Linked DNA regions of Homo sapiens. The protein of the gene in region 7 purifies or fractionates together with the protein of the main gene of each other region. This does not show direct contact. Each region holds a gene or a part of one and is shown on either strand. Other genes may lie near its edges.

Region 1 (4,261 bases), on a different chromosome or scaffold from region 7:
TTGGCCGTGTCCTCCAAGGACTGGATCACTTTCAGCCTCTGTTTAAACCGCATCTGCTCAATGTCTTCGGCCCTCAGGCTGCTGAATTTCTATAGGGAGAGGTGACTTGGTGAGATCAAGCCAACTGCAGGGCAGAGGGCCACCACCTGCCCATAGCCACCCCAACCCACATGCCAGATGGAGCGGCCTGGCCAAAATGGCCCCACTGGGTGCTGACCTCATAGGACACTTTCAGGAGCTCAAAGATGTCCACCTCTGCAGGGGGGTCATCGCTGCTGCTCAGCAAGGCACGGAGGTGCGGGATAGGAGGAGAGACACTCTGCTTGTTGACCACATTATCCAGGTATCTGCAAAGGACAGAGGACAACAGTCCAGACCACGCCCAGGCAGAGGGAGCCTCCTTCCCACAGCTGGGTGATGCGGAGGGACCCAATCTTTATGCAGACTCCTAATAAGGAGTGTGCAGAGGACTGGGCACCCTGCAGGAGGGCAGAGGTGTGCCCTGGCAGCGCCCCCAGCAAGTTGGGGAGCCCTCTACAGGGCAGTGCCCCCGACAAGGCCTGAGCACTAACCCTGAGGACGCTGGGCTGTTTTCTTAGTCAGTGGGGGGGTCCCTTGGGCAGGAACGCCTTATAACCCCAGATCCTACCCAGTTGGAAGGATGACGAGCTTCCTCCCTTTGGCGGGGCCCTGGGGATGTGGGACCTTCTCGCCCTGGCCAAGAAGATTCAGGGATCAAAGGTTGAGTCGCAGGAGAAAGTCAGGTGTGGGGAGGCCTGCTGCAGCCCAGGGAATCAGCTTCTCTAGGGACACAGTCCTGGGGATGGAGCCCTACCTCTGTCAGCTGACCTAGCCCCGCCAGAGTTCATGGCCTCTCTGGGTCCCTGGGCTGAGCCTGACACTCAGGTGGGAGGAGGTAGCTGACTCCCCATGCCCATAGCCCTGGTCATATCCCCAGTCAGACCCCTGCTCTGGAGGAGGCCCTATCCGCCTATTGTAGGAAGCGGCAGGAAAACCAGCCACAGACTCCGGCCACAGGCTGAGTATCTTAACATCAGTGTGGACCAAAAGCTACTTAGGCCCACAGTAGGGAGGTGACAACCCTGCTGGATCTAGAGAGTCCCAGGCAGCACCTGGCCTGGCCATGGGCAAGTGGCAGAGTCCCAGGCTGTTCCTGGGGGCTGGGGGCATTCCAGTCCGGACAAATACGCTATGTAGGAGGGTGGGACTGCACAGAGCTCAGGGCAGGGCAGAGTGTAGCCAGGAGGGGCCGGGGCTTGAAGGCCAGGCTGGAGGCTCAGACAGTGCCTTTGTACAGAGGACCCAGGGAAGGGGCAGGGCCAGGTCTGATCAGAGTCATGGGATGCAGGCAGGTCAAAGACTGAGAGGGGAACCCCAGGGAAAGGGCATGGTGGGCCTGGGCTGAGGCAGCAGGCTGAAGGGAAGGGGCTGGATCCCAGACAGAATCTGCAAGAGATGGGATGTGGGGACTAAGGAGGGGGTGGAGGGGCTGGGATGACCCTGGACATTTGGCGTGACTAGTGGGACATCAGCTCATCCAGCTGTTCCAGCGGGCCCAGGGCAGGCCTGCTCCCTCCAGGGCATGGGGGCTGCAATGCAGCTGAGCTTGGAGAGGTATGACCGGGACCACCTGGTGGACATGAAATGCCCAGCTGTGCCACCAACTGGAATTGTGGTCACTGGATCTTGGCTCTGGTTTGCCCTCAGGGGAAGCATCTCCAACCCTACATCTGAGCGGTGGCCCTCCAGCCAGCATGCTCTGCCCGCAGTGCCTGCTTTACTCCTCCTGGCACCTATCACTGAGCGCTGCTTCATCTCCCACTAGAAAGGAGCCGCCTCCTGACCCCAGAGCACCCCCGGGTCCAGCTGCAGCCTGGCACTTGGTGGGCACAGTCACTTCAGGCTGACTGGACAGTGCCCGGGGCTGGTGAGGGGTTCTGCTGTGAGCCCCCAGCAGGAGAAGGAACCCGGCATGTCACCTGCCCAGCATGGTCATGGCCTCGCCCTCGTCGCTGCAGCCCAGCAGCTGCTCCATGTTGGCGTCCAGGACGGCCAGGGCCACCTGCAGGATCACCTTGATGCCCTCATAGAAAAAGCAGTCGACGATGACCACGGCGCTCTCGAAGGGCATGACGCTGAGGAAGAGGGTCAGGAACCAGGACAGCGAGATGCTGGAGATCACCCCCAGGTCCTGCATCTTCTCCGAGAGCTGCGGCAGGAAGTCTCTCGTGAGCTCTTCGAAGATGCCTTGGTCCACCAGGGCTCCTGCGGGCAGGATGAGCGAGGCTGATGGTGAGCCCACCCTGTGGCCTGGGTGGGCCCTCACCTGCAGCGTACGAGCCCTGGCCACTCCAGCCCTGCCAGCTGTGCAGTGAGGGCTGAGGGAGACTTGGAGTGCTGGGAGAAAACAAGGACGAAAAAACCCTTCAAGTCTCTCTACAGCTCCCAAACCACTGGGCGAAATAACTATTTCTTCTACTACACTTGAATTTTATTTTGGGGAAATACTGATTTCTCCGTAAGGCATGAGAGGTAAACAGCACCCTCAATGACTCTGTCCCATCCTGATGATTGTGAATAGACGCAGCTCTGAAGGACCCCAAGAGCGGTAACTCCAAACACCAGACAGCAGGGGAAGGACAGGATAACATGCTTAAATATGAACCTAATTAAACACTCTTGCAAGTCCATTTCCACTTCATAACAGATTTCACTGGATATGAGTTCAGTAAAGTTGAGCATCAGGTTACATGGGGGATATATACTCTCTAGTTTTGATGTTTGAAATTTTCCATAATCAAAAAGTTGACAGGAAGTTAGATGGATAGGAATTTAGGCTCTGAGGGGACTTTTATAAACCACCGAATGTGTAATACTACCCTCTAACTCCTAGGGAACCCACGTGAAGCCTGGAGCTTGGCCTGGGAAGGGCTGCCACCCTCATGGAACCAGCAGGCACCTGGAGACCCAGGCGAGGCAGCACCCGGGGACACTCACCCACCACCCTGGTGTTGTAGTAGTCGGGCAGCATGCGCTCGCACAGGGCCACCAGGAGCCAGAAGGCCTCCTCCTCACTGCCATAGAGCAGGAGCACCGAGGTCACGATGTTCATTGCCTGCCGGGCACAGAGACAGCCGGGGAAGGCTTGCACTGCTGGCCAGCAAATAAAACTGTCTCTCCCCACCCCTCCCAGCCACCCCTCCCTGCAAGGGCCCACATGATCTTCTTTTTGTTGTTGTTATTTTTATTATTTTTCAGGTTCTCGTGGTGAAGATTAATGGCCTCCTCCTACAAGCAAATCTGCCTCTTCAGGAGGGCTGGGCATCCGGTAATGAGAAACTGCCCCTACCCAACTCTGGGAAATGTCAAAAGGCAATTTGTAGGAAACTGATGGAACAGAGAGTCTGCCAACTCCTTCAAACTGGGTCAGAAGGCACTGGGAAACCAGAGAAGGTGAACATCAACACATCACACTTCTGCGGAGTGGTGTTGGGTGTTGGAGGTGGGATTATGACCAAGCTGATGTGGAGGTGAGCCACAAGGCCAGAGCCCCACACCAAGGCCACCCACTCGGTGCACAACTAGGACCACACACAGCCCTAGCTGCTAACAAGACCTTTAAGGCAAACAGAAAGCCATATGACTTGGCCAGGAAAATGCCTAGATTTAAAATCAAAAGCTGCGAGAAATGCTAACCTAAAGTACAATTAGATACCCTCATGCCCATCACTCTAACAACAACAGAATATAGCAAGTGTTGATGAGGATGTGGAGAAATCGGAACCCTTGTGAACTGCTGGTGGGAATATAAAATGGTGCAGCTGCTGGGGAGGAAGTATGGAGTTCCTCAAAAAATTAAAAATAGGCCAGGCCACAGTAGCTCACACTTTGTAATCCTAGCACTTTAGGAGGCTGAGGAGGTCGGATCACTTGAGCCCAGGAGTTCAAGACCAGCCTGGGCCACACAGTGAGACCCCATCTCTATAAAAAATACAAAAAGTAACTGGGCGTGGTGGTGTGTACCTGTAGTTCCAGCTACCCAGGAGGCTGAAGTGGGAGGATCGATTGAGCCCAGTAGGTGGAGGCTGCAGTGAGCCATGATCATGCCACTGAGATCCAGTGTGGGCAACAGAAGGAGATCCTGTCTCAAAAAAAAAAAAAAAAAAAAAAAAAGCCCAGGAATGGTGGCTGGTGGCTCACGCCTATAATCCCAGCACTTTGAGAGGCTGAGGCGGAAAGA
Region 2 (4,261 bases), on a different chromosome or scaffold from region 7:
ACCAAGAGTGAGGCAGCGAGTGTGGCAGCAGAAGCCAGGCGCAAGTGGAAGGCAGCCGCCGACAGGACAGCAAGGCCGGCGGCCGCGAGGGCAGAGTGCATAGGCTGGCGGCTGAGTCTGGGCACAGGTCAGAGTGGGGTGTGTGTGTGTTTGGGGCGTGTCTGAATACTGACAGACGGGGCCTCTGTCTGTCCTGCTCTGGCCGGGTCCCATGACTCTTGTTGACACTGCTATTCAATAGATGGTTTACAATAATGCAAACTTTTAAAAAAGCCGAGGTATTCACGTTTCCTTCAGTTCACACATGCTGTCCAGATGTCTCTGAGCTACTGGCAATTTTTCTCAACAGTTCCAGATATCCAGGCAGCAACATTCATACAACAAAATTCTGACAAAGAATAACTGTATTTTAAGGATTCGGGAAGGAACGTAACTTCAGATCCCAAAAGCCTTTTGCCCAATTACTTTTCATGCTCACATTGCTTGGGGACTTCAACCTTATGGAGCTTCTAAAAAATAGGTTTTCAAAATTAAAACCAGACTATAGAAAACAAATGTAATACAATTTCCAACTGTTAACATTCCTAAATTCTCACCGGGTTTCCTTTCAAACGCAGAACTGATTAAAATCAGAGGTGTATTCACCTCCTCGGTGGAGGAGGCCCCGTGACTTCCTGTTTCAGACATGCCATGGTCACCACAAAGAACCAGCAAATTGGGTAAAGGCGTCTCTCTCTCCTTTAAGGCAAAGGAAAAACATTTCAACTGCGTTCAGACTGAAGAGAGCACATCATCTTAAGAAGACAATTTTCGGTTTTAGCTTTACTTTATAGAGTTGTAGCTCTTTCTCAATGAATTAGATTTTTTTTTCCTATGAGCTCATAGCCAGATCACAGGGTCACAGTCAAATAATGCCATAAATGAAGTTCACAGAATTGTACACAGCTCATGGAGCACAGCAGGCTGCATTTCTGCCCTCTGATGGCAGACGGTTTGTATCTGGTTTCTGTCTTTGCCACTGCCAAGCTGTGAGACTCTGGACGCATTCTACTCTGTGCCTTGGTCGCCTCATCTGTCAAATGGAATCTTTCACAGGACTCTGGTGAGAACACAACACACAGCAAAAGGCAAGAGCTCTGAGCCATGTGGGGGCACCCACCAGGCTTCTCTGCCCCTGGGGTTGCAGCCACACATCCTTTGCTGCTCCGGGACAAGCCAGGCAGGCTGTGCCTGACCCTCGCTGCTGGTCCTCCTGGAACACTCGTGCACAGACCACATGGTCTGCCCCTCCCTCCCTTCAAGTCTCTGCTCACCCTGCACACGTCTTCAGGGAAGGCTTCTCTCAACACGCTGTTGAAAGCCCCTCCTCCTGCCCTCTGAGTTTCTGCAGCACCCATCACCTCCTCACATACTTATTTACTCATCTTTCTCATCTCTCCTGGCTAGAGCGTGAGCTTCACGAGGGATTATCGACTGTTTCACTGATGCACCCAAATGCATGGACAAAAAGTGACATAGAACAGAAACAGAGACACAGAACAGACAGAGTGACACAGAACAGAGACAGTGGCACAGAGCAGAGAGAGTGACACAGAACAGAGAGTGACACAGAAGAGAGAGTGACACAGAACAGAGAGTGACACAGAACAGAAAGTGACACAGAACAGAGTGGCACAGAACAGAGAGAGTGATACAGAACAGAGAGAGTGGCACAAAAGGTCTTCAGGAGGTATTAGTTGAATGAATGCATACACGGGTAGGAGTGAGAGCTGCTGTTCTGCAGGGCTGCTGGAAGACGGAGTCAGTGCAGTGGACACTGAGACAGTGCTGCCCGTGTGGCATGCGGCCCCTGGCTAGCAGACTGATGGTGGACATTCACACAGGCACCCTGAATAACTCAGGCGGTTGCATTTATTCTAGGGAACATCCACGTGAAACCACATCAGCAGACAGTGAGCGACGGCGAGCCTCACCTTCGACTGCAGTGAGGTGTGGATCTTCATCAGCACGCTGTCCATCTCGCTCAGCTTCTGCCCAATCAGGGGGCTGTTGGGCCCTGAAATGTGGCCAATGTGGTCCAGCCCCAGGTAGTGGAGGATTAATATGTCCCAATCTCCTCTTTTTAATACTTTATCCAAATGCCTCGTGACATTATTATCCACCTTTGAAGGGGAAACACACGTATAAACAACTCACCTAATTTCCCTGGATCTTCACTCCCCGGGGAAAACGCAACAGTCATCTTAAAATCTAGGGGTTTATTCAGGTTACAGGATTTGGGGGAGTTGAAACACAACAAAATCTATGTCATTAAAAATAAATAAATAGGCTGGACACAGCAGCTCATGCCTTTCATCTCAACACTTGAGGAGGCTGAAGCGGGAAGACTGCTTGAGGCCAAGAGTTCAGGACCCACCTGGGCAACATAGCAAGACCCCACGTCTATAATAAATAAATGAACATTAGCATTGGATTAAACTTTTGCTAATATTGTTTTTATGTTTCTGGGCTATGGATCGAATATATTCTACAGATAATTTAAATGAGCAAGGGTTCTTCTGACAAAAATATTTTTCTGTGGGATCACTGCTGGGCTTAATGGGCATAACTGAAGGTGAGCAAATGGGCAAGTTAAATAGATCCCAAGTTGTCATGAGGTAACTAAGGGCAAAGGGCAGTTAATTAAAGACAGGACAGTACCCAGCGTTAAAGTAACCAGCAGGATGATGAAGCTGAGGGCATCTACATGTGTCCTACAAGAAGGCTGTTCTGAAAAAGACACAGCACTCAATGATCACATTGATTTCTGAAATAAACACATCACGGAGGAGAGATGAGCAGTTGATCAGCCCCCAATAGAGCTGTCAGCCTGGTGAGCCCTGACCCCTCAGCTAGCTCATCTCCCTCCCACTAAAAAAATCTCCTATGAAGAGAAGTGTTTCTCAGTGATGCCATATATAGTCAGGAAAACTCAGTCATTACTGAAAAGTAACTGTTGAAAAGCGCCCCACTTTGGAACAGGATAGGACTACAGATGCTCCATAAGGCCCAGCCATCTAGGAGGTGAAGCTGGCTAAACCCCAGGCCAGGCAGGTGTGCTGGTGTGCTCCTACCTCAGCCCCAGGTCTGCTTTCTAACATGCAGGTCTAATTTTTGTTGGAAAAGCTCCAGGAAAACCCCCTCAGGACCAGGCCCCACCCAGTCGGCCACCTGCCCTCAGGGCACGATGAGGCTCCGCTTGCAGCAGAACCAACAGGCTGTGGAGTCCTACAGCTCTGCCATGTGCAGAAGCTACCAGCCTGTTCTGCCCACCTGGGGAGTCCCCACTCACCCATCATATCTCGGCTCAGACAGTCCCTTGGCTGTGTCACCCTTCCTGATCCTCTCTGCCCCTCAATGGCACTCAGCTGTTCTAAGCTTTGGGTTCCATAAAACTCTGCTCACACCTGCTTCAGGTTTGTATTTCTGGGTTGTTAACTGATTATGTGAGTGAATAATTTTTACACCTGTCCATAGTACTCCCTATAAATTAATAAAACCAAATATAAAATGGTATCATCTCTCACTAAGTAATGGGATGCCAGGCTCTATCTAGTATGATATTCTAGTATGATATATTTTCTTATTTTAAAAACTGACCTCTGTGTAATCTGACACGAAAAATGAGGTTGTTCCATCATATTCCACAAAATGCTTTGGGAATAATTTAACCCAGGTTTCATCTCCATAAAAGACTATTCTTTTTCCAGCTGCTTTTGCTTGTCTTATCACACTGTCTTCCAGCAGTGCAGGAGAATTGAGGTTCCTGATGACGTCGACAAAGCCAGGAAGGCTCCCCGTCATCAATGCCTGCAGTCAGAAAATGCAAGAATTAGGCCACTGAATCCAAAACCGGAGCATGAAAAGGGCACTGAAGATTTTTTTTTTTTTTTTTGAGACAGGGTCCCTCTCTGTTGCTCAGGATGGAGTGCAGTCATGCAATCAGGGATCACTGCAGCTTTGAACTCCTGGGCCCAAGCGATCCTCCCACCTTGGCCTCCCAAGTAGCTGGAACTACAGGTGTGTGGCACCACACCCAGCTTTTTTTTTTTTTTTTTTTTTTTTTTTGGTAGATACAGGGTCCCGCTATGTTGCCCAGGCTGGTCTGAAGATTTTTTATGGATAAAATAGGTGAGCATAAAGCTAGGGCATCCCTAGTACTGGTGGCTGGGTCAATGTTAGGACAGTAATTAGGGTAAAGAAGAGAAAGAGGCACATAGAT
Region 3 (4,261 bases), on a different chromosome or scaffold from region 7:
TGTTGAACATGGGAAGCATTGATACTGGAATTAGAGGCCAGTAAGGGGTTGAATCCCTAGTCAAGTCATCAGAGTTTCATTATTTTCTGTTACCTACCAGGTCATCGGATCAAAAGGATCTCATTTCTCAGCACTCCTCTAGTAATCTTATGGGGCTCGAGAAATAGTGACCATAAAAGCTTTCAGAAATATGGTGGAAGGATAGGAATTTGGGGACTAGAAGCCAGAAAACAGAATCTAAAAAATACTGGCAGTTAAAAAAGTAAATAAATAGAAAGCTAAGAAATATCAAACGTCAGAAGGACCGAGACAGAAAATACAGTCATGTGTTACTTAATGATGGGGATATGTTCCAAGAAATGTGTCATTAGGTGGTTTAGTTGTTGTGCAAACGTCATGGAGTATACTTCTACAAACCTAGATGGTATAGCCTACCGGACACCTGGTCTATATAGTGTAGCCTATTGCTCCTAGGCTACAAACCTGTATAGCAGGTTACTGTACTGAATACTGTAGGCAATTGTAACACAATGGTAAGAATTTGTATATCCAAACATATCTAAACATAGAAAAGGTACAGTAAAAATACAGTATAAAAGAGAAAAAAAAAGGTATACCTGTATGAGGGCACTTACCATGAATGGAACTTGCAGAACTGGAAGTTGTTCTAGGTGAGTCAGTGAGTGAGTGGTGAGTGAATAGGCGGCCTAGGACATTACCGTATACTACTGTAGACTTTTTATAGATACTGTATACTTAGGCTACACTAAATTTATAAAAAAATTTTTTTCATCAATAATAAATTAACCCTTGGCCAGGCGCGGTGGCTCATGCCTGTAATCCCAGCACTTTGGGAGGCCGAGGCAGGCAGATCACTTGAGGTCAGGAGTTTGAGACCAGCCTGGCCAACATGGTGAAACCCCATCTCTACTAAAAATTTAAAAAATTAGCCAGGCGTGGTGGTGGGCACTTGTAATCCCAGCTACTCAGGAGGCTGAGGCTGGAGAATCGCTTGAACCTGGGAGACAGAGGTTGCAGTGGGCCGAGATTGTGCCACCGCACTCCAGCCTGGGCGACAGAGTGAGACTCTGTCTCAAAATAATAATAATAATAATAATAATAAATTAACTCTTGCTTACTGTAACTTTTTTACTTTATAAACTAAATTTTTTTTAACTCTTGGACTCCTTTGTAATAACACCTAGCTTAAAACACAAATTGTACAGCTCATTAAAAAATTTTTTCTTTATATCTTTATAAGCTTTTTTCTATTCTTAAAATTACTTTATTTTTTTTTTTTAGCTTTTAAACTTTTTTGTTAAAAGCTAAGACACAAACACATATTAGCCTAGACCTACACAGGGTCAAGATCATCAATATCACTGTCTTCCACCTTTTTACATCTTGTCCCACTTAGAAGGTCTTCAAGGGCAGTAACACACATGGAGTTGCCATCTCCTAGGATAACAATGTCTTCTTCTGGAATCCCTCCCGAAGGACCTGCCTGAGGCTGTTTTACAGTAAATTTTTTTTTTTTGTAAGTAGAAGGAATATACTCTAAATTAATGATAAAAAGTGTAGTATAGTAAATACATAACCCAGTAATATAGTTGCTTATGATCAATTATTGTATACTGTAGATAATTGTTTGTGTTGTCCTTTTATATGACTGGCAGTGCAGTAGGTTTGTTTATACCAGCATCACCACAAGCATGTGAGTAACGCAACATGCAGTTGTTCATCTCTATTATACTCATAGGATCACTGTCATACATGCAGTCCATCATTGACCAAAACATCATTGTAGCACATAACTATAGTTCTAACATTCATGGAGCTTTTTCGTTTTTTTGAGACGGAGTCTTGCTCTGTCGCCCAGGCTGAAGTGCGGTGGTGTGATCTCAGCTCACTGCAACCTCCACCCCCTGGGTTCAAGCGATCCTCCAGCCTCAGCCTCCCGAGTAGCTGGGATCACAGGTGCCCACCACCACACACGGCTAATTTTTGTCTTTTTAGTGGAGATGGATTTCACCATGTTGGCCAGGCTGGTCTCAAACTCCTGACCTCAGGTGATCTACCCGCCTTGGCCTCCCAAAGTGCTGCGATTACAGGTGTGAGCCACCGCGCCCGGCCTCAAGGAGCTTTTTGATCCATTTCTATGGGCTCCCCACCAAGGACACTTCAGTTAAACATTTGGCTGAAGTGTTTGACACCAAAGCACTTGCAGATAGGATTGGGGCAGAAGCCAAGTTGACAGTGTCACCTGTCCCTCATTTCACCCTATCGCACTAAAGTTCTCCCACACTTGCATTTCAGTTTCAATACTTTTTCTCATGTGCCACAAAGGAGGCTGTGAAGTTATCATTTCCAAAGTCTCTGCTGGGCACAGTGACTCACGCCTGTAATCACAGCACTTTGGAGGCTGAGGCAGGACGATAGCTTGAGCCCAGAGGTTCGAGCAGCCTGGGCAACACAATGAGACCCTGTTTCTATCTGTTCTGAAAACAAAACAAAACAGAAGTCTCTTGAGGAAGGGTAAAATTTAAAACATGTAAGACATTAGGATAGCAAAAAAATCTCGGTCTCCAGCACTGTCCTAACTTTCAGGGTTTTCTGTTATCCTAGTCCCTTGTGATAACACACCACATAGCAACTTCTCTTGGGTTACAGATCTTCCTCCTTCCTGACATTGGGAGCATGAGTGATATGGGCTCACATACCCTGGCTGCCTCCTTAACAGTCAGTATTAATTTGGAAGTAAAATGAGAAATGTAACACTTAAATTGAAGCTTATTAAATCCACAGAGGTAATGGCAATTCCAATAAAGCCAAAAGACCTTTCTCATTTTCTTTCTTTTTTCTTTTTTTTGAGACAGGGTCTCACTCTGTTGCCCAGCCTGGAGTGCAGTGGCACAATCATGGCTCACTGCAACCTCAACCTCCCCAGCTCAGGTTATCCTCCTGCCTTAGCCTCGTGAGTAGCTGGGACCACAGGTGTGCACCACCACACCCAGCTAAGTTTTAAATTATTTGTAGAGACGGGGTCTCCCTGTGTTGGGATTACAAGCATGAGCCACTGTGCCTGGCCACCTGCCTTATTTTCATTACATTTTTAGGATGGAGAGACTAGAAGAAAGTTTCTAGAATGTTCTGTTGAATCAAGTCATGGAGTCTAAGTCAAGGTTCTTAATGATGTTTCAGAACTTACAATGGATGGGGAAATCTGGATGTAGGAACCTAAATGGATAGCTCTATTTTCACCTTTTCTGTTGGATCGCTTAGAGCAGTTTCCTCCCCTGGTGTTTAACCATTATGAGATGGAAAGTGTGTTTTCATCTGCATTGAATCCTTGGCTGTAGGCACTGGTATCTGAGTTAGTTGAGCCAGGGAGAGGGCTACAGGAAGGCAAGCATATTAAGAATTGCTTCCTGGCTGGGCGCGGTGGCTCATGCCTGTAATCCCAGCACTTTGTGAGGCCGAGGCGGGCGGATCACAAGGTCAGGAGTTCGAGACCAGCCTGGCCAACATGGTGAAACCACATCTCTACTAAAAATACAAAAAAATAGTCGGGCGTGGTGGTGGGCACCTGTGATCCCAGCTACTGGGGAGGCTGAGGCAGGAGAATCGCTTGAACCTGGGAGGCGGAAGTTGCAGTGAGCTGAGATCGTGCCATTGCACTCCAGCCTGGATGACATGAGCAAGACTCCATATCAAAAAAAAAAAAAAAAAAAAAAAGGAAGTGCTTCCTTCTCCACTGCTTTAGCTTTTAGCTTAGCCTTATGTTCATTTAGCAAAAACTGTTATGAAGACAGATACAGTAGAATGAAGCTGGCATCAGCTGGTTTCTTGGTGACAGTTTTGGACAAAGGGAGGTCGGGGGGCTTTTGAAAAAACAGGGTCAGTTGAATATTGGGCTATTCATATCACATAGGCATCTCCTGCTTTGTCTCTCTTTCTACATGCTTTAACCCTTTCCTCTCTCCCTCCTCCTCCCACAGGAGGAAATCCTGAGCAGCCTGTTCAACTAGAAAATCAATGACTGGTGGAGACTTAGTTGCTAGACCGGCCTTTGTAAACAAAATCTATCTTTGGAAGAGAATGAGGAAACTTATGAGAGCCGTAGCAACCAAGTGTTGTTGTAGCAGCCTACATTTATTGAATACTATTTTGTTCACTGCTCTATTTTCATAAGCACTCTGTATGTGGACGATTTTAATCCTCTAAACAGTGTTATGAAGTAGATAATATTAATAGATGAGGA
Region 4 (4,261 bases), on a different chromosome or scaffold from region 7:
GTCGAAGGACAGGTCGCTGGGGAGAGAAGATGCTTTCACCTGGGAGGAAGACGCTGGCAGGAGGAAGGCTGGGTCAGGGGTCAAACTAGGGTGGCATGGGAGCGTGTGGACACAGGCATGCAGGAGAGGCCAGGACGCTCAGAGGGAGGGCCGGGCGGGGAAGCCACATGTGCGTGGAACGGGACAGAGAGCCAGAGAGCTGCAGGGGTGGGTTCAGACGGCTTCGGCACAGGGTGGGGCGGCCTCTGCGCCCTGGGATGAGCACCACGCTCAGCAGCCCTCCCCGGCCTCAGGAGCAGCATATCTGACACGACACGGCCTTCCCAGGAACACCCTCCAGACCCCGCTGGACCCTCGCCGGAGGCCCGAGGCTTCCCTGCAGCCCGTGGGCACTCACTGGAGCGGGTCGGCGTGCTTCTGCAGGAAGGAGATGGCTGCTGGGGCATTGTAGGTAATGTACTTATGGATGAACTGCACAAACTTGTTGATGAAGGCAGCCAGATGGCGGGAGGACTTCCTGTAATTCTGCAAAGCAAAAGCGGCACCCTCGAGCTGCTCTGCCCCGCAGGGCCAAAACAGAGCCTGTGCTCCCATCTGCTCCCAGAGCCTCAGGGCATGGACCCCACAGCCAACGAGCCCCCTCTGCCAACCACTGGGGCGTCACAGGCCCAAGGGTGGCCGGCATGGCCTGTCAGGGTGTGGACATGGCTGTCTGGGGCATGTGCCCAGATGGATGAGGGGCTCGAGGTAGCACAAGCGACACGCAGAGAACAGCACGGAGGGTCTGGGCTGGGCTTCTGAAGGACGTGGGCCCCCCAGGCACGTGAGGGGCAGCAGGCAGGGGCTTCCCAGGGTGGGAGCTGGTCCCCAGGGCAGGTGGCCTGGCCTGGGCCCTGGCTGCAGAGGTCCTCCCAGTCCCTCCGCGAGTGGGTGAGGCAGGCCTGGGCCAGAGCAGAGGGAGTGGAAGGGAGCGCGAGGGCGGGCGGCGGGAGCACACACCAGCAGCAGGCGGATGAAGGACAGAAGGCAGTCCCACAGCGCCCCCTGGTGCTCGCTGCGGAACACGTGCGGCTGCAGCAGCTCCAGCAGGCCCAGCACGTGCAGGAAGCAGCTCAGGTGGTTCTGCTGCCGGAACTCCTGGAAGTTGAGGTGGGTGCGGCCGTGCAGGAGCGCCGCGATCATGGGCAGGTGCCTGCGGGCGCGGTGAGGGCCCAGTCAGCCCCGGCCGGCGGGCTCACCTGGCGCACGTCCCCAGGAAGGCCCCACTGCCTGCCCCGGGAGCCAGACCCCGTGCTGCCCCCCAACCACCCTCCTGCCCTAAGGAGGTGGGGATGAGATCGCCCCTCTCTGAGGCCCACCCAGCTCCTCCCACCTGAGGCCCAGCTCAGTCCTGACTTCCCCCGGTCAAGCTCAGCCCATGGGAACATGCTTTTTTTTGTTGTTTTTGGAGTTTTGCTCTTGTTGCCCAGGCTGGAGAGCCGCAGACCCCCCTGGTTAAACCAGTGTCTGGCGAGGGCAGGGCTTCTGGGACAGCACCTGAGCAGCAGCAGCGGGTGCGCCACCGCCAGCTTCCGGCAGGCCATGCTGGCATCCGCCCCTCGGTTCTCCAACGCCCGGGAGTCGCTGGTGTCCGCAAGGAGCGTGATGAAGCGGTGGATGAGTCCGTCCAGCTGCAGGGAGGGGCGCTCTGAGGCCGGGGCCGCTGGCTCCCCTCACTTGCCCACCCACACTCAGCCTGGCCGCCAGCTGTGGCCGTGATCCACCGCGTGGCACGCCATGAGCAGAGGAACTGGCTCCTTACGGCTTCCATGAGCACCTCGGGAGGGCAGGCAGGCCACAGCCAGCCTCTGGGAAAACCCCATACAGAATAAAAGCAAAGCTCCACACCAAATGATACAATGAGCGGGAAACAAGCCAAAACTACACATCGGCCAAGCAGGCGCAGTGGCTCACGCCTGCCATCCCAGCACTCTGTGAGGCCGCGGCAGAAGATCACCAGAGCCCAGGAGTTCAAGACTAGCCTGGGCAATGAAAATAGCCCTCTCTATTTTCAAAAATACAAAAAGAGTAACTGGGTGTGGTGGCACGTGCCTGTGATCCCAGCTACTCGGGAGGCTGAGGTGGGAGGCTCACTTGAGCACAGGGGGTTGAGGCTGCAGTGAGCTATGATGGTACCGCTGCACTCCAGCCTTGGCAACAGACACCCTGCCTCAAAAACCCTCCACAAAACTGCACATCAAGTGTGATTTCAACAAATAAAATGACATATAAGTGAAAAAAACCACAAGCAGAAATGATTAGAGAAAGTCAGCTGCCCTCTGTGGTACCAGCAGAAGACAGGCTGCAGGTTCCGGCCTGCGGTGGGGAAGCGGGTACGGGAGGCCCAGCTCTCCCCACCAGGGTCACTGGAGAGGAGCAGACGCAGCCGTCCGCCAAGACCCGGGCACGAGTCCCCAGCAGCTGTCACTGCCCCAAACTGAACGTGACCCCACGTCCACCAGCAGGTGAACAGATAAACCAACGGCCGATCCACACAATGGCAGGCCACCCAGTGCCCACAACACCACGACTCTCCAGACTGTGCGAGCAGAGCACCCGCAAGCTCCCTCGGTATAAAACTCAACGCAGACAAACCCACAGGGCCACAGGGCGGCGCGGACTGGGAAGGGGCAAGAGGGGTAGCCGGCGATGGCCATGTACACTGTGGCCTCCGCCCTCCCTCCCTGCCCGGCCAGGGCACCTGGGACGGCGGCGGGGAGCGGCAGAGTTGCGCCCTCACCTTGCAGACGCTGCTGCTGGCAGCCCCTTCGCTGTGCAGTAGGACCTCAGGCACGGGCACCCGCAGCTCCGGCCGCTGTAGGTAGAGCTGCAGGAGAAGGTCTCGGCAGCGCCTGCCCAGCACGCTGGAAGAGGTGGAGCAGGGCTCACCAGGCGGACGGGGCCCCAGTGACAGGGGTGGGTGGACGGGACCAGGCGTGATGGGAACCCACCCAGGGCTGGGCCTCGACCCCCTCCATGGCTCACTCCCAGGCAGCATCTGGGGCCGGGGGGCCTGAGCACCTGTCTCCCCACTGCTGGATGCAGCCTGACAGGTGCTCCGTCACCTTCCTGACACTCTCATCGTCCCCACAGCAGCAGCTGAGCAGCAGGGGCAGCCGGGCCTGGATGAGGCTGCAGGCGGCTGTGTCCCCGTCCTGGCTCCGCGTCTCCGCCTCGGCCAGGATCAGCTCCACCAGGCTGATGAGCTCCGGGCCCTGGACCCGCAGCACCAGCTCCTCCCGCCGCTTCTGTAACGGGTGCCTGCATCAGCCCCGGAGCACCACCGCCTCTCCCGGATGGGCCACCCCCTCTCCCGGATGGGCCACCCCCTCTCCCGGATGGGCCACCCTCCCAAGACCTGCCTGCGGGGTGCGCTGGTCCCGCCCCTGCCAGATGCGAGGAACATGGATGCAGGCCCAGAGGAAGTCCAGAGAGGCAGAGGGGTCGAACCTGTGGGGAGGCAAAGGTTCCAGAGCACGAGGTGTCTCGTCTCAGCATGGGAGATACCAGTCAGAGCCGGCGCTGGGAGATTTCTGGTGAAGGCCAGTATGCGCGCAGCCCAGGTTGGGGACAGGGAGGCGCCCACCTCTGTTCCCGGCTCTTGCCCAGCAGGACTCGGATGCACTGGTGCAGTGTGGGCCAGCTGGACTGATGCGTGAAGAGGGTCAGGAGGTAGGGACGGAACGAGGGCACCTGGGCCTGACCTTTGCCCTGGGGAGGGAGGAAGAAGCCCGGATGGCCTCACCTGGGCCAATGGCAGGCTCTGCTGAAGTCAGCTGACAGCTTCCCCAATGAGCCACTCAGAGAGCCGAGGCTTGGGGTGCTGCCGGTAACACCGGCCCCGTCATGGTGCTGGAGGGCCGCTCCTGGTGGCTGCGCTGCATCTCCCCGCCCCTTCCCACGGGAGCCATGCCACACAGCGGAGGTGCCCGGGGCTCCATGCAGCCTCTCTGGTGAGGCCGTCCCTCCCTGGAGGATGTGGGGAGCCCAGCACCTGCCCTCCCTTCTCCTGGCCACAGCCCCATTCCCTTTGGGAAGATGGAGGCCCCTACATGATCTACAGGGTTTGGCAGGGCCGACCCCACCCCATCCACCCACCCCATCCCCACATCTGGCTGGTCACAGTGCTGGTCCACAGGTGACTGTGACCCTGGCCTGGGTTCTGCTAGGGCCATTGGGGGACCTACCCTTCCTCTGGGTTGCTACAGGGACACATGGCCTG
Region 5 (4,261 bases), on a different chromosome or scaffold from region 7:
CCCAGATGCTTTGAATGCTGACAGATGGATTAAACTGCAGTCTGCACCAGGTTATATTATAAAAAGGCACATCTGTCATATCTACATTAGGCTGTGTATCTGAAGGCACAGAAAACACAACCGCAATCTTCCACTCCTTTGATGGTGGGACAGCAAAAGAACCAGCTTGAGGAAAGTACTGTAACACCATGCTAGTCAGTGCAGTCCATGGACCGACAGCACTGGCATCAGAGCTTGTTAGAAATGCAGAATCCTGGATAAAAATGCTGATCCATCTTGGACCAAGATTCTGCATTTCCAACAAGCTCCCAGGTGATGCTGATGTTGACGGTCTGCAGGGCACACTTCGAGAAGCAAGGCTCCAAGAGACAGCTGCCCACATCTTTAATTTTACCGTGAACTGCAGGGAGAGGATGGCATTTTATCATTCTGTATCACCAGTGTTTAATATAGTGCCTGGCATATTGCAATTGCACTGACTCAATAAATAATTGTGCCTGAAAGACTGAATGAATACAACTCTTTCAGAAAGCGTAGCTGAGAGAAATGCAACCAGTGTGAGATCTTGCTGTCTCCTCCTAGAACATTCTGATCCGTGCATGAGATGTGGCTGAGGAGTAGGGGCTCCTCTGGAACATGGATACTTTTAGGAATGTGAACTCAGATTCATGGTCTTAATTATATACAGTCATAAAAGAAGACAGAAAATTCAGTTGTGCTTTTTTCTTGTTTTGACAAGGTACATCATCTCTGTCTGTAAATTCACATTACAATCCCACATGTGTACCTTTGACTCTTAAAGTAATGAAATTCATATTACAATCCCACTGGTGTTTTAAATCTGAAAGTAACAATGCAGAAGAAACAGTCTGAATGTGTACTGCTTGTTTCAAGTGATCATTCTATAAGCATGTCAGGTATTAACATGTTTTGAAAAAGATGGTCTATTAAAATAGTTACTAACATGTACAAATGAAACACACTAATGAGTGATGCTTTGCTTCTTCTGGAATCCCACAGTTGGCTCAACATCCTATCCCTTCACTTTAGCCTACTGGGGAGACGATGTGGGGAGAGACAGCTTTTGGTGTTCTTGCCAATAAAAATGAAGAGCTGTAGTCCTGGCATTAAGGAGGGAAAAAGTTGGTAAAGTGCATTTGTGCCTCCTCTGTGTATGTGTGTGTGTTTGCAGGGGCATGAAGGGAACTGCAGAAGGGCAAGGAGGTGAAGCTTCTGTCTGTTGTGGGGGGTAGACAGGGGATAGAACTGTAGGTAGGGCAGATACTGAATGCCTCTGCCCAGTTCATATGCAGATACCACCAGAAGAGAGAGGAGGGAGGCAATAACCAATTTGTTTCACGCTCCCCATCTGCATGTTCAATGGCCAGTGAAATAGCTGGGCCTGGAGCTTAGAAAAGAGTTCCACATTGGAGGAATAGATAACGAGAGTCATTGAGGGTCATGGCAGATATTGCCTAAAGAGACTGTGTTGGGCAAGAATAAGGCTGAGGATAGAATCTTAAAGAACACAACATTTAAGAAGAGGGCAAGTAGGTTGGGCGTAGTGGCTCACGCCTGTAATCCCAGCACTCTGGGAGGCAGAGGTAGGCGGATCACATGAGGTCGGGAATTCAAGACCAGCCTGGCCAACATGGTGAAACCCTGTCTCTACTAAAAATACAAAAAAATTAGCAGGGTGTGGTGGTGGGTACCTGTAATCCCAGCTATTTGGGAGGCTGAGGCAGGAGAATCACTTGAACCCAGGAGGGGAGGTTGCAGTGAGCTGAGATTGCGCCACTGCATGCCATCCTGGATAACAAGAGCGAAACTCTGTCTCCAAAAAAAAAAAAAAAAAAAAAGAGGGCAAGTAGAGAACTCACTCATCGAACTGAAAAGGAGTGGCCAGAAAGGTAAGAAAGTGATGTCATGGAAACCAAGGAAGGAGAAAGTTACAAGGAAAGTCGATCTACAAAGGATCAGGAATGGAAGATTCACCTGGATTTGGCAATCATTAAGGGTGAGTGACCATAATCCAGAACCAAAGCCAGAACAAGGAAGGCAGGAGAGATCATGATTTCAGACAAGAGGCTTAAAAAGAAAGAAAAAACATAAAAACCAAGACGATTATTAACATCACAAAAAATGAAGAGAAACCCCCCATAATCATAGTATCCTATAATACTAATTTTCAATATCCTTTGCATAGGCATTTAGTGTATTTGTTTAACCAAAATTGTTAAAATAGATATATTAGGATGATGAGAAAGAGAAGTAGTGGAAGTGCCGGTATGACAGTTCTCATTTATTATAAAAAGATAAGAAGAAGTCAACAAATAATGCCTCATTTTGTTTAATTAAAAAATAACAGCAATATAGTAACTATTAATATGAAATATGGAAATGTGCAAGTAGCAGAAGAGACGCTAAAGGGTTTCTCCTTTTTTGGGAGAAGGATTTTGAAGAGTAAGGAGGGGTAAAGAAGGAAATTGGTATACTTTGTAATGAGCCTTTTACTATTATTTGGCTTGTAAAACTATATATCTGTTATTTTAATATACATTTAAAAACAGAGAAAAAGCAGACATAAATACATCTAAAGATTGGCAAAGAAGAAGAAAAAAATGATGACACACATGAATATTCATTTATTAGACTTGCCTTTAATGTCCCATAGTGGTGATTACCTTGAGGGTATTTGGGGGTAGTGGTGACTAAAAGAAGGAAGGGAGGGTTTGGGGAATATGGGGAGTGCTGGTAATGCTCTGACTCACCTGGTTACACAGGTGTTTTCACGAAGAAAAAATTCTTATGTTTACTTATGATTTGCATACTTTTCTGTATGTACACTACATTTCAATAAAAATTAATTTAAAATTATTCCCTGTACTTAAGAAAACCTCATAAAGTGAAGTAAAAATATGTAGTGTTATTTAAGTACATTAATAAATGAAGCTAATATTCAATCTTAAAAAGTGGTTCTAGAGTGATATCAACTTTTTTTTTTTCTTTGAGACAAAGTCTCGCTGTCGGTCAAGCTGGAGTGCAGTGGCGCGATCTTGGCTCACTGCAACCTCTGCCTCTTGGTTCAAGCGATTCTCCTGCCTCAGCCTCCCGAGTAGCTGGGACTACAGGCGCGTGCCACCATGCCCGGCTAATTTTTTCTGTATTTTTAGTAGAGATGGGGTTTCACCGTGTTAGCCAGGATGGTCTCGATCTCCTGACCTCGTGATCTGCCCGCCTCAGCCTCTGATAGCAATTATTTTTAAAAACCATTACAGTAATTGTATAACTTACTGGCTAATATTATCATTTTTATTCCCACTAAGTCAGAAAATTCAAATTCTGGTTATCCAGACTGACTGCAAAAGCAGTAACTTTTAATGTAACATATATATAACCTTTCTTTAGAAAATAGATATTTGAGATTAAAAGGAGTAAAGAGTGTTACGATAGTATTTCTTTGATTAAATGAATCACCCATGAGTACAATTTCCTCTTGGGTAGTCTACAAATTTACCAGCACTATACCCCTTTGCCTCATCAAAAGTGAAAAAAAATTTAAATAGGTGAATGTTTTTACCCACTGTTACATGTAAATTGTTATAAGTAATTAACCTATCAGCAACAAGTCAAAACTATAAATTACTACATATGTAATAAGTGGCTCAAGAGTAGAAAATTGAAGTTTAAGATTTTAGAGGTGGAATGACTCTTGGGGAAACAGGACCCAAGATATAGCCACAGGGATGGGTTGTCACTGAAATAAAGACTAAGGCCTCTGTTATGTCCAAAGTACTGGAGATATTATCTACCTAAACACCAAGTATCAAGATCAGCTAGATCTAGAATGGAGAGGAGGATACATAGTTGCTGAAGTAGGTCATGAACATGGGGAAGGGACTAGGAGCCTGGTAAATAGCAGTAATGAGCACAGGCTTTCTGTCCACTACATTACAGAACTGTTCCATCAAAGGGGCCAATATACAGGTAAGAGGTTTGAAAAGTGTGAAGCAATATAAACATATAAACTATTACAATTATCATTGATCCTCAACTACCTTACTCTGTTGGAAGTGGACAGTAACACCACATTGCTGGCTCACTCACTGTACTGCCCTGCCTGTTAGCTTACTTCCATGTTTCCTCATGGTTCAAAACAGAACTCAAACAGAATTCACCACCATGGTGTCAGCTCTTGATACCTCCCTACTACTTCTGCTGTGAGCACTCGCTTTGTGCCAAACCCTGTGCTAAGCACGTG
Region 6 (3,413 bases), on a different chromosome or scaffold from region 7:
CAATCCATCATGAGACCCCACCTCCCTGTCCTCCAGCGAGACTTCAGGCCACGGAGGGCCAGGTCCTGCTGCACATCGTGGGAAGGAATCTATTCCCTAGCAGGTGGGGGAGGTGGAGCCCACACTTCCCACCCTGGGGGGCAGGGGGAGTGGGTGCCACAGGGGCCACAGGAGTCAGGCAGCCTGGACTCCAGCCTCCCTCCACCACCAGGCCAACCATCAGCAACACCCCCTCCCAGCCTCCAGCCTCCACCAGTACCAGGCCAACCATCAGTGAGACCCCCTCCCAGACTGCAGCCTCCCTCCATCATCTGGCCAACTGTCAGTGAGACCCCCTCCCCTCGCTGAGTAAGAGCAGTCAGGGAGATGCCATTAGAAGGTGGGAGACGCCAGGAGCCAGCCCACTCCAAGCCGCACTGCCCACATTCCCATCAGGATGCACCTTGCTGGGAACCCGGCCTCAAGGAGGCTGTGAGTAGCAAGCAGCTCCCCAGCCAGGGTTTCTAGAACAACAACATAGGCATTTTATTTCTTTTCATTAAGCTTCTTAGTTTCTTAGTATCACAATGGAATGATGAGAAAACAACAAAAACGTGAGTCTTTGCAAATCTCTGACAAAGAGCAGAGATCTCAAGGCAATTGGGGCGGGGGAGGCTTGACAGAAGTGCCAGAGCAGTTCCAACGTCACATCTCTCCTTGGCTGGAATGGTGAGAAGGTGGCACTGTCGTGAGCTGTCCTTGGCAATTCTGCCCCATGAGCCACGTGCGCCTGGTCTGCATGGGCCACCCCGCGGGATTTCCTGGTGCCTCCTAGTACCTGGCCACACACCCCTCCGCCTGCTCCAACGCCCTGGGAGCACCGTCCAGTGCTCAGGTGGACCCAGAAGCCAGCTCTGCTGGGCAGCGGCAAGATGTGGAGGAGCGGCAGAGGCAGGCAGCGTTGCTTGCGGTGGGAGAAGCCAAGGAGTGTGACCAAGGCCCATCTGGGAGACATCTGTGGTGGAAGGTAGGGCTGGCGCAGGTGGCAGCAGCAGAAGTCCGTGTCCCCAGGCAGTAGCAGGCCTAGAGCTTCACAGTGCCAGGGGGCAGGCTGTCGTTGCAGAGTCTGTAGTAGCGCAGGTCGTTGACCAGCCTGTGCACATTCTGGGTGAATGAGGGCAGGTCCTGGAAGGCAGGGGCATAGCTGCAGCCAACAACACACCAGGTCACCCACCCACCAGACCCCAACAGCTACTTCCATCCCAGAGTGTGCACTGAAGATAGGGGAGCACTTTCTAAAACTCAAAACTTCTATTCACTGTTGCACTGCGTGTCACAGAGACTCTGTGCCAGGCGCTGTGGGAGAAAAAGAACAAGAGGAATACGTCCCTAGGGCCTCTCGGGTGCCAGACACTGCTGCAATCAACATACAGACATCAACTCACTGAGTCCTCACCACAAGGCTGCCACCAAGCCCTACCAGAACCACTAGTCTAAGGACAGAAAGACCAAAGCGCTGCACCATGAAGAAGCTGGCCCCAGCTCACACTGAAGAGACCAGCACACTTGCTCCTGAGTCCGGCCCCTCAAACGCAGACATGGCTGTGGTGACAGCCCTCTTCTTCACCATGGCCCCTTGAGGTGACGCGCACACCGAGCAATGTCTGCAGAACCTTTACCCACGGGGCTCCAGGCCGCCCCTGCCCCTCGAGAGCCACCCGAGCAGCAGCAAACACAGTCCCAAGGCCTGTCCCACTGGGCGCAGCGTGGGCCATGGAAGGCCCTGGGCCAGAAGTGAGGCCCTGACCTCCGCCATCATGCACACGGTGAGACCCTGCTTTTTTTTTCAGTGTAGGTCCCGGTGAGGACTCAAACAGGCCCAGCAAGCCCCAGCAGAGCCATGAGCAGGACCAAGTTCATTTTCCTGCCCAACCACTATTCCTCTTCCAGAACTCCATTCAAAGCCTGCCTCTTCCCAAAGTCTGCACAGATGCCTCCTATTTCCTGGCCCCAGCAGCCAGCTCAGCGCCTCTGTCCTGAGCAATCTGCTTCTGGGGAGTGTGTGCAGGCTCTGGGGCCAGAACACCCAGGTCTGCCTCCTGCTTCGCAGCTCTACCACTTCCAAGTTCTGTGAACTGCTCACCTTCTGAGCCCCCACCATCTGTGAAATGGGGGAGTAACAGGACCCACACTTCAGAGGCTTGTTAGAAGGCTTACTCGAGCCAAGACATGTCACATGCTTGGCACTATGTGGTCCACAGAGGGTGCTGTATTGGCCTGTCTACCATGAAAGACTTGGTGAAGGCTGGGACTGGTGCCCCAGTTCCTGGCCCGGGGCTTGAGAAGCAGCTGGCTTCAAACACACAGTGCGTGACTGAATGGAAGGTGGTGATTCTTTTATTTTACCCTCAAAAAACCAACTAAGGGATGTCTTTTAAATCAGTGGCTCCCAAATGCCAAACCAGAATTTCCTGGGTAGAACACAGAAGTCTGTTTCTCCATTTTTAATAAGTACCCCAGGTGCTTCTGATATAACTAGATTTTTTTTTTTGAGACAAAGTCCCACTCTGCCGCCCAGGCTGGAGTGCAGTGGCACAACCTCCGCTCACTGCAACCTCTGCCTCCCGGGTTCAAGAGATTCTTGTGCCTCAGCCTCCCAAGCAGCTGGGATTACAGGCGTGTGCCACCACACCTGACTAATTTTTTTTATTTTTAGTAGAGACAGGGTTTCGCCATGTTGGCCAGGCTGGTCTCAAACCCCCTAACCTCAAGTGATCCGCCCGCCTTGGCCTCCCAAAGTGCTGAGATTACAGGTGTGAGACACCGCGCCTGGCCTATAACTAGATTTTGAAACCACAGCTTTAAATCAAAAAGTTGACTGATATTGATGTCGTTAGAAGCTGATCATTAAGTATTAGGATCTGGCCTCTAGAAAAAGGAAAAAACATATCCAGGGGCTGAAGTGAACTGGAAGAGGCTTAGGAGAGAACAAGTCCCAAGAAAAGGAAGACCCCAAGACAAAGGAGAACAGGATGAGTCTAAGCAAAAGCTTCCCTGCCACACGTGGCAAATGAGGAAAGCAGGCGGCCAGGTTTGCACCAGTGAGAGCAGTGTGTGCATCTGAGCACTACGGTGGAGCCGTGGACAAGCTGCTTCACAGAGGACTCAGGTCAAGAACCCCAAGAGGACCAGGGAGAAAGCGATTTCTTTTCCTAATTTCATCAAGTATAAAACGGTACAAGGAAAAGTTCCCAGAAGTTCCTATCAGGCAAGAGAGAGGCCTGGTCACCTGACACAGGAAGAAGAGAACAGGTGAGCCCCATGGGGAAGGAGGTCCCAGGCACTGTCAGGCTCCAACAAGATGGCCTCATGGACACCAAGAGCCAGCAGCACCCAGCTCCCACCGAGGTGCTGCACGGGTGGGGACAGCCCAC
Region 7 (4,261 bases):
CCAGCTGGGACTGAAACAGCCTCCTGTCCTCCCAACCTCGCTGAGGCCCCCTCACCAGTGTAGGCCAGGCCACAGGCCACGTTGCTGCCCAGAGAGGGCACCTGCTCCCGAGAAATCTGTGTCCAGCCAGCATCATTCCCTACCAAGGCCATCACTGGGATCTACAGGAAGATGATGAAGGCAGGCCGCAGCCTTCAGCCCCATGGCTTGGCCAGCCAGAGGACAGAGACAGGGATAGGGCCTCTGCCAGAGAGGAGGCTCCCTCCCCACCTCAGCCCACCCCTGGTGACATCTCCCAGAACCCCAGGCCCTAAGCTTCCCTCAGGCCAGCCCAGTCACCTTGTGTCTGACGAATGTATCAAATTCGATGAGGCTGTAGCCAAAAGCTCCGTCCCCAAACAGGCACCAGACCTAGTCGGGAGGGGACCCAGGATGGTTAGGGTGGATCAGGACCTAGAGAGCAGCAAGTCTCCCAACTCCAGTGCCTCACCTCAGCATCTGGCCGGCACAGCTTGGCCCCAAGTGCAAATCCTGCACCAACTCCCAGAGTCCCAAAGGCCCCTAAGAGGACCAAGAGCAGGTGGGTGTGAAGGCGTCCTGATGGATGGTGCCCACTGCCCCAGGCGGGGGCCCTTCCTTACCAGGATCGAGCCAGCGCAGGGGGCCGCGGGGCTGTACCAGATGGGCAGCAGTGCCCACGAAGTCCCCGCCATCCACCACCAGAATTGAGTTGTCAGGTAGCGTTTCCTCCACCAGCTGCAGCACCTGCACTGGGTTCAGGTGCTGGGCCACAGGCATCGCTGCCTTCTCCCTGCGACAGGACAGCGAAGGTCACCAGGGTTGGCAGCAGGGTCTGCCGGGAACCCCCTTCCCACATCCACTCCACCCAGGCCCCACCGAAAGGTCTGCTCCTTCTGCCGGTCGGCTTCCCGCAGCTCCTCCACCCAGTCTGGGGCCCAGGTCTGGCCCTGAAGGCCCTCCACTAACTTCAGCACGAAGGAACCCACATCTCCTGGGGAAGGAAGAGGACACAGCTGTGGGGAGCTGGCTTCCTCCTGTTCTTCCAGCATCAGAGGCCTCAAAACAGCAGGAAGCCAGCAGCAGCATCCGAGCAGGCAGACGGGAAGCAGGCCAGGGGTGCTCCTAGAAAAAAAACAGGTGAAACACCCCAGAACCTGCCAGAACCAGGGGAGGGCAGCCCAGGTGAAAAGGGAAGACAAGGCCCAAGAAACAAGGGTTAAGGAGCACAAGGCAGGTGACAAACCCAAGCTGGCCTCGTCCCCTCCCTCCACCTCCTTCTGCCTGGGAAACACTCAATGAAAAGAGCTACATCCACCAAGCACATCTCTCAAATCCAGGCACGTGGAAGCGCACAGCGAACGTTACTGAAGTGAACTAACAAACAGCCCCGTGATGTATCTTTCACCACCCCATTTTTCAAATGATCAAATGGAGGCTCTGAGAAGGTGAGGCTCTGCCGCTGTTCATCTCCAGTTCAGGCCTCCTCGCTTCTGTCCTGGCCATTTTGAGCAGCCCCCCTGGCCTCCACCCAGCCCCCTTCCGGCCTGCCGTCCATGGCTGCTGAGTGGACCTTCCCAACACAGATGCAACGGTGCTACTTCTCTGCTTAATACAAGAGTGTCCTGTCGCCTAGGCTGCAGGGGAGTCAACATCCTCAGAATGATGAACCAAGTTCAAGTCCAAGGGGACTAAAATAAGGGGAGGGGAGAGATACGGCAGGAAGACAGGCTAAGGGGCCAACGAGTGTGCTCTCTGTCCTGAGGGCAGTGGGCAGTGTGGGAGGGAACGTGATCACATGCACGTTTTCAAGCCTCCCTCTGTGTCCACCCCACCATTTGTTCCTACAGAAGCATCTATCAGGCCGGGCGCAGTAGCTCTGGTCTGTAATCCCAGCACTTTTGAGAGGCCGAGGCAGGAGGATCACTTGAGGCCAGGAGTTCCACGCCAACCTGGGCAACACAGTGAGATGCTGATTCCACAAAAAAAAATTAACAAATTAGCCTGGCATGGTGGTGCATACTTGTAGTCCCAGCTACTCAGGAGGCTGAGGTGGGAGGATTGCTTTTGAGCCTGGGAGTTTGAGGGTGCAGTGAGCTGTGATTGCACTACTGCATTCCAGCCTGGGTGACAGAGCGAGACCTCGTCTCTAAAAAATAAAAATAAAAAAAATTTAAAGAAAGAAGCATTCATCAGTTTGAGAGCCAACTATTTGTCTCTGGTTGACTGGCTACCCCTAGGGCAAGGTCTGGGCCTCAATCACTGTACCAGGCTCAAGCCAGCTGCAGCAGAAACCAGGAGGAGAGGGACTGGGAGGAGCACATATGTGTACGGGGGGATTAAGGGGCTCACCCTGCACAGCCTCCTGGGGCTTCCAGAAGATGTCTGAGTTGAGCAACATCTCTTCCCGATTACGATTGACGATGATGATCTTGCTGCTGTGGCTGAGGACACGGCCATAGGATAGGCGGAAGTCACACACAGTTCCTGGTGTGGGGGACAGGAATGCAGTAGGCAGAGGCCCCATGTCGTCTACCTTACTTGATCCACTGTGGTGGACTGGATGCAAATGAGTCCCTGTTCCTCACCGAGTCTCCCTGCACCTGTGCCACCTACAGTGACCTTGCAGCTCCCCACACCCCCTGAATCGGGACTGGCCTCATGACATGCTTTGGCCAACAGGATAGGGCAGAGGCAGGTTATATTTTCCCAGATGGCCATAATATCTCCCACCCTACATCCATTTGTACAAGGTCACCTTGACATGCCTCCCATGGAGAGAGGTGCAGCCTAGGTCCCCTTTCCTTGAAAGTGACACACCATGACACCCAACAAGGAAGATATGCAGTTTCTTCCTTGTTCACTTTTAGAGGCCTGGGTGGGGCCAAGGAATGTGCTCTCTGTCTAAGAAGTCTGACTACCCTGAGGCCATCATGCTGGGAGGAAACCGGAGCCACACATAGAGACCTGTGTAGTTGCCCTAGTCCACAGCCCCTCCAACAGCTGGCGTCAATTGCAAGACCTCTGAGTGAAGACACCTCCAGATGATTCAGGACCCCCACCCCCCATTCCTGCAGACTCTACTTCAAGAAGCCACACAGCCTCCACTCACTCTCTTGAATAACCGCACTCTCCTAGCCCCATAGTTTTCTCATCCTTCACCAAGTCGGCCAGCCCAGGCTAGCCTACTGGAGGATGAGAAACAAGGGGGCCATGGAGACAGGGGTGAAGAACTCTATGACCCCAGCTGAGGCCATCCCAGACGAGCTGCAGGGCCAGCCAATCCCCATACAGGTGAGCAAGCCCAGCCTGGATCAGCACAGCTGCCTTCCTGCCTAACCCAAGTGCAGACTCATGAATGAGCCCAGCCAAAACCACAGCTACCACCTACCTTATAGGTGGATCTTGAGAAATCAGAAATGCATTTTTAGCCATTGAGTTTGGGGATGGTTGTTACAGGGCAGTAGCTATCTGATACACCTATTATGCGTCTGGTTGGGTTCAAAGCGCTTTATGTGAAAATGTGTATCAAGTACAATAGGTGCCCACTAGACCTTCCTCCTCCTTCGTGTGAAGCTGGGTAACAGGGTGAGGGGGTTCCTGGGGGAAGGAGGGAAAGGAAGAGGCTCAGGCCCACCTGCTAGGACAATGACATCCGCCTTCTTCAGGGCCGCACTGCGGTTCTCCCGGATGTGGAGGGGGTGGTTGCGGCCTAACAGCCCCCGTGCCATCCCTCCAAGGAAGCAGGGAACACCCAAGGTCTCCACGGCAGCCCTGGGAGTCCAGGCAGAGCAGAGGTCAGTGTGGCCGGGGCCTCCCGCCTCCCCAAGAGCACCCGAGGACTGGGGACTGGGAACGTGAAAACAAGGGCAGGGCTGGCGCTTCTCACCGAAGCTTGTCGGCAGACGTTGGGGTGAGCAGGGCCTGACTCCCCAGCACCATCAGAGGCCTCTTGGCCCGGCTCAGGATCTCCACACAGCGCTGAACCTGGAGCGAGAGGTGGGGATCAAAGGGCTGTCTTTTTATTTATTTATTTTTTTGAGACACAGTTTCACTCTGTTGCCCAGGATAGAGTGTAATGGCATGATCTCAGCTCACTGCAGCCTCCACCTCCCAGGTTCAAACGATTCTCCCGCCTCAGCCTCCAGAGTAGCTGGGATTACAGGCGCGTGCCACCATGCCTGGCTAACTTTTGTATTTTCAGTAGAGACAGGGTTTCACCATGTTGGCCAGGCTAGTCTTG

What was found.
Region 1: the proteins of HACL2 (region 7) and TBC1D9B purify together in Homo sapiens (co-immunoprecipitation; 2 studies listed by BioGRID and IntAct, with this or other methods). This does not show direct contact.
Region 2: the proteins of HACL2 (region 7) and PIGG purify together in Homo sapiens (co-immunoprecipitation; 2 studies listed by BioGRID and IntAct, with this or other methods). This does not show direct contact.
Region 3: the proteins of HACL2 (region 7) and TNPO3 purify together in Homo sapiens (co-immunoprecipitation; 2 studies listed by BioGRID and IntAct, with this or other methods). This does not show direct contact.
Region 4: the proteins of HACL2 (region 7) and INTS1 purify together in Homo sapiens (co-immunoprecipitation; 3 studies listed by BioGRID and IntAct, with this or other methods). This does not show direct contact.
Region 5: the proteins of HACL2 (region 7) and TTC27 purify together in Homo sapiens (co-immunoprecipitation; 2 studies listed by BioGRID and IntAct, with this or other methods). This does not show direct contact.
Region 6: the proteins of HACL2 (region 7) and XPO6 purify together in Homo sapiens (co-immunoprecipitation; 3 studies listed by BioGRID and IntAct, with this or other methods). This does not show direct contact.

The regions. Positions count from the first base shown.
Region 1 is NC_000005.10:179,872,902-179,877,162, forward strand, and holds part of TBC1D9B (TBC1 domain family member 9B), read right to left. Parts: intron 3,137-4,261; coding exon 3,019-3,136; intron 2,287-3,018; coding exon 2,001-2,286; intron 348-2,000; coding exon 218-347; intron 90-217; coding exon 1-89. UniProt on the Homo sapiens protein: May act as a GTPase-activating protein for Rab family protein(s).
Region 2 is NC_000004.12:505,306-509,566, reverse strand, and holds part of PIGG (GPI ethanolamine phosphate transferase 2, catalytic subunit), read right to left. Parts: intron 3,850-4,261; coding exon 3,640-3,849; intron 2,163-3,639; coding exon 1,974-2,162; intron 739-1,973; coding exon 597-738; intron 1-596.
Region 3 is NC_000007.14:128,957,612-128,961,872, reverse strand, and holds part of TNPO3 (transportin-3), read left to right. Parts: intron 1-4,261. UniProt on the Homo sapiens protein: Importin, which transports target proteins into the nucleus. Specifically mediates the nuclear import of splicing factor serine/arginine (SR) proteins, such as RBM4, SFRS1 and SFRS2, by recognizing phosphorylated SR domains.
Region 4 is NC_000007.14:1,473,169-1,477,429, forward strand, and holds part of INTS1 (integrator complex subunit 1), read right to left. Parts: intron 3,751-4,261; coding exon 3,626-3,750; intron 3,490-3,625; coding exon 3,402-3,489; intron 3,288-3,401; coding exon 3,061-3,287; intron 2,904-3,060; coding exon 2,780-2,903; intron 1,671-2,779; coding exon 1,537-1,670; intron 1,193-1,536; coding exon 1,000-1,192; intron 526-999; coding exon 398-525; intron 17-397; coding exon 1-16. UniProt on the Homo sapiens protein: Component of the integrator complex, a multiprotein complex that terminates RNA polymerase II (Pol II) transcription in the promoter-proximal region of genes.
Region 5 is NC_000002.12:32,805,527-32,809,787, reverse strand, and holds part of TTC27 (tetratricopeptide repeat protein 27), read right to left. Parts: intron 1-4,261.
Region 6 is NC_000016.10:28,097,476-28,100,888, forward strand, and holds the end of XPO6 (exportin-6), read right to left. Parts: intron 1,165-3,413; coding exon 1,063-1,164; 3' UTR 501-1,062; downstream 1-500. UniProt on the Homo sapiens protein: Mediates the nuclear export of actin and profilin-actin complexes in somatic cells.
Region 7 is NC_000019.10:15,115,511-15,119,771, forward strand, and holds part of HACL2 (2-hydroxyacyl-CoA lyase 2), read right to left. Parts: intron 4,006-4,261; coding exon 3,908-4,005; intron 3,793-3,907; coding exon 3,656-3,792; intron 2,506-3,655; coding exon 2,371-2,505; intron 1,013-2,370; coding exon 898-1,012; intron 812-897; coding exon 642-811; intron 562-641; coding exon 491-561; intron 412-490; coding exon 340-411; intron 162-339; coding exon 56-161; intron 1-55. UniProt on the Homo sapiens protein: Endoplasmic reticulum 2-OH acyl-CoA lyase involved in the cleavage (C1 removal) reaction in the fatty acid alpha-oxydation in a thiamine pyrophosphate (TPP)-dependent manner. Involved in the phytosphingosine degradation pathway.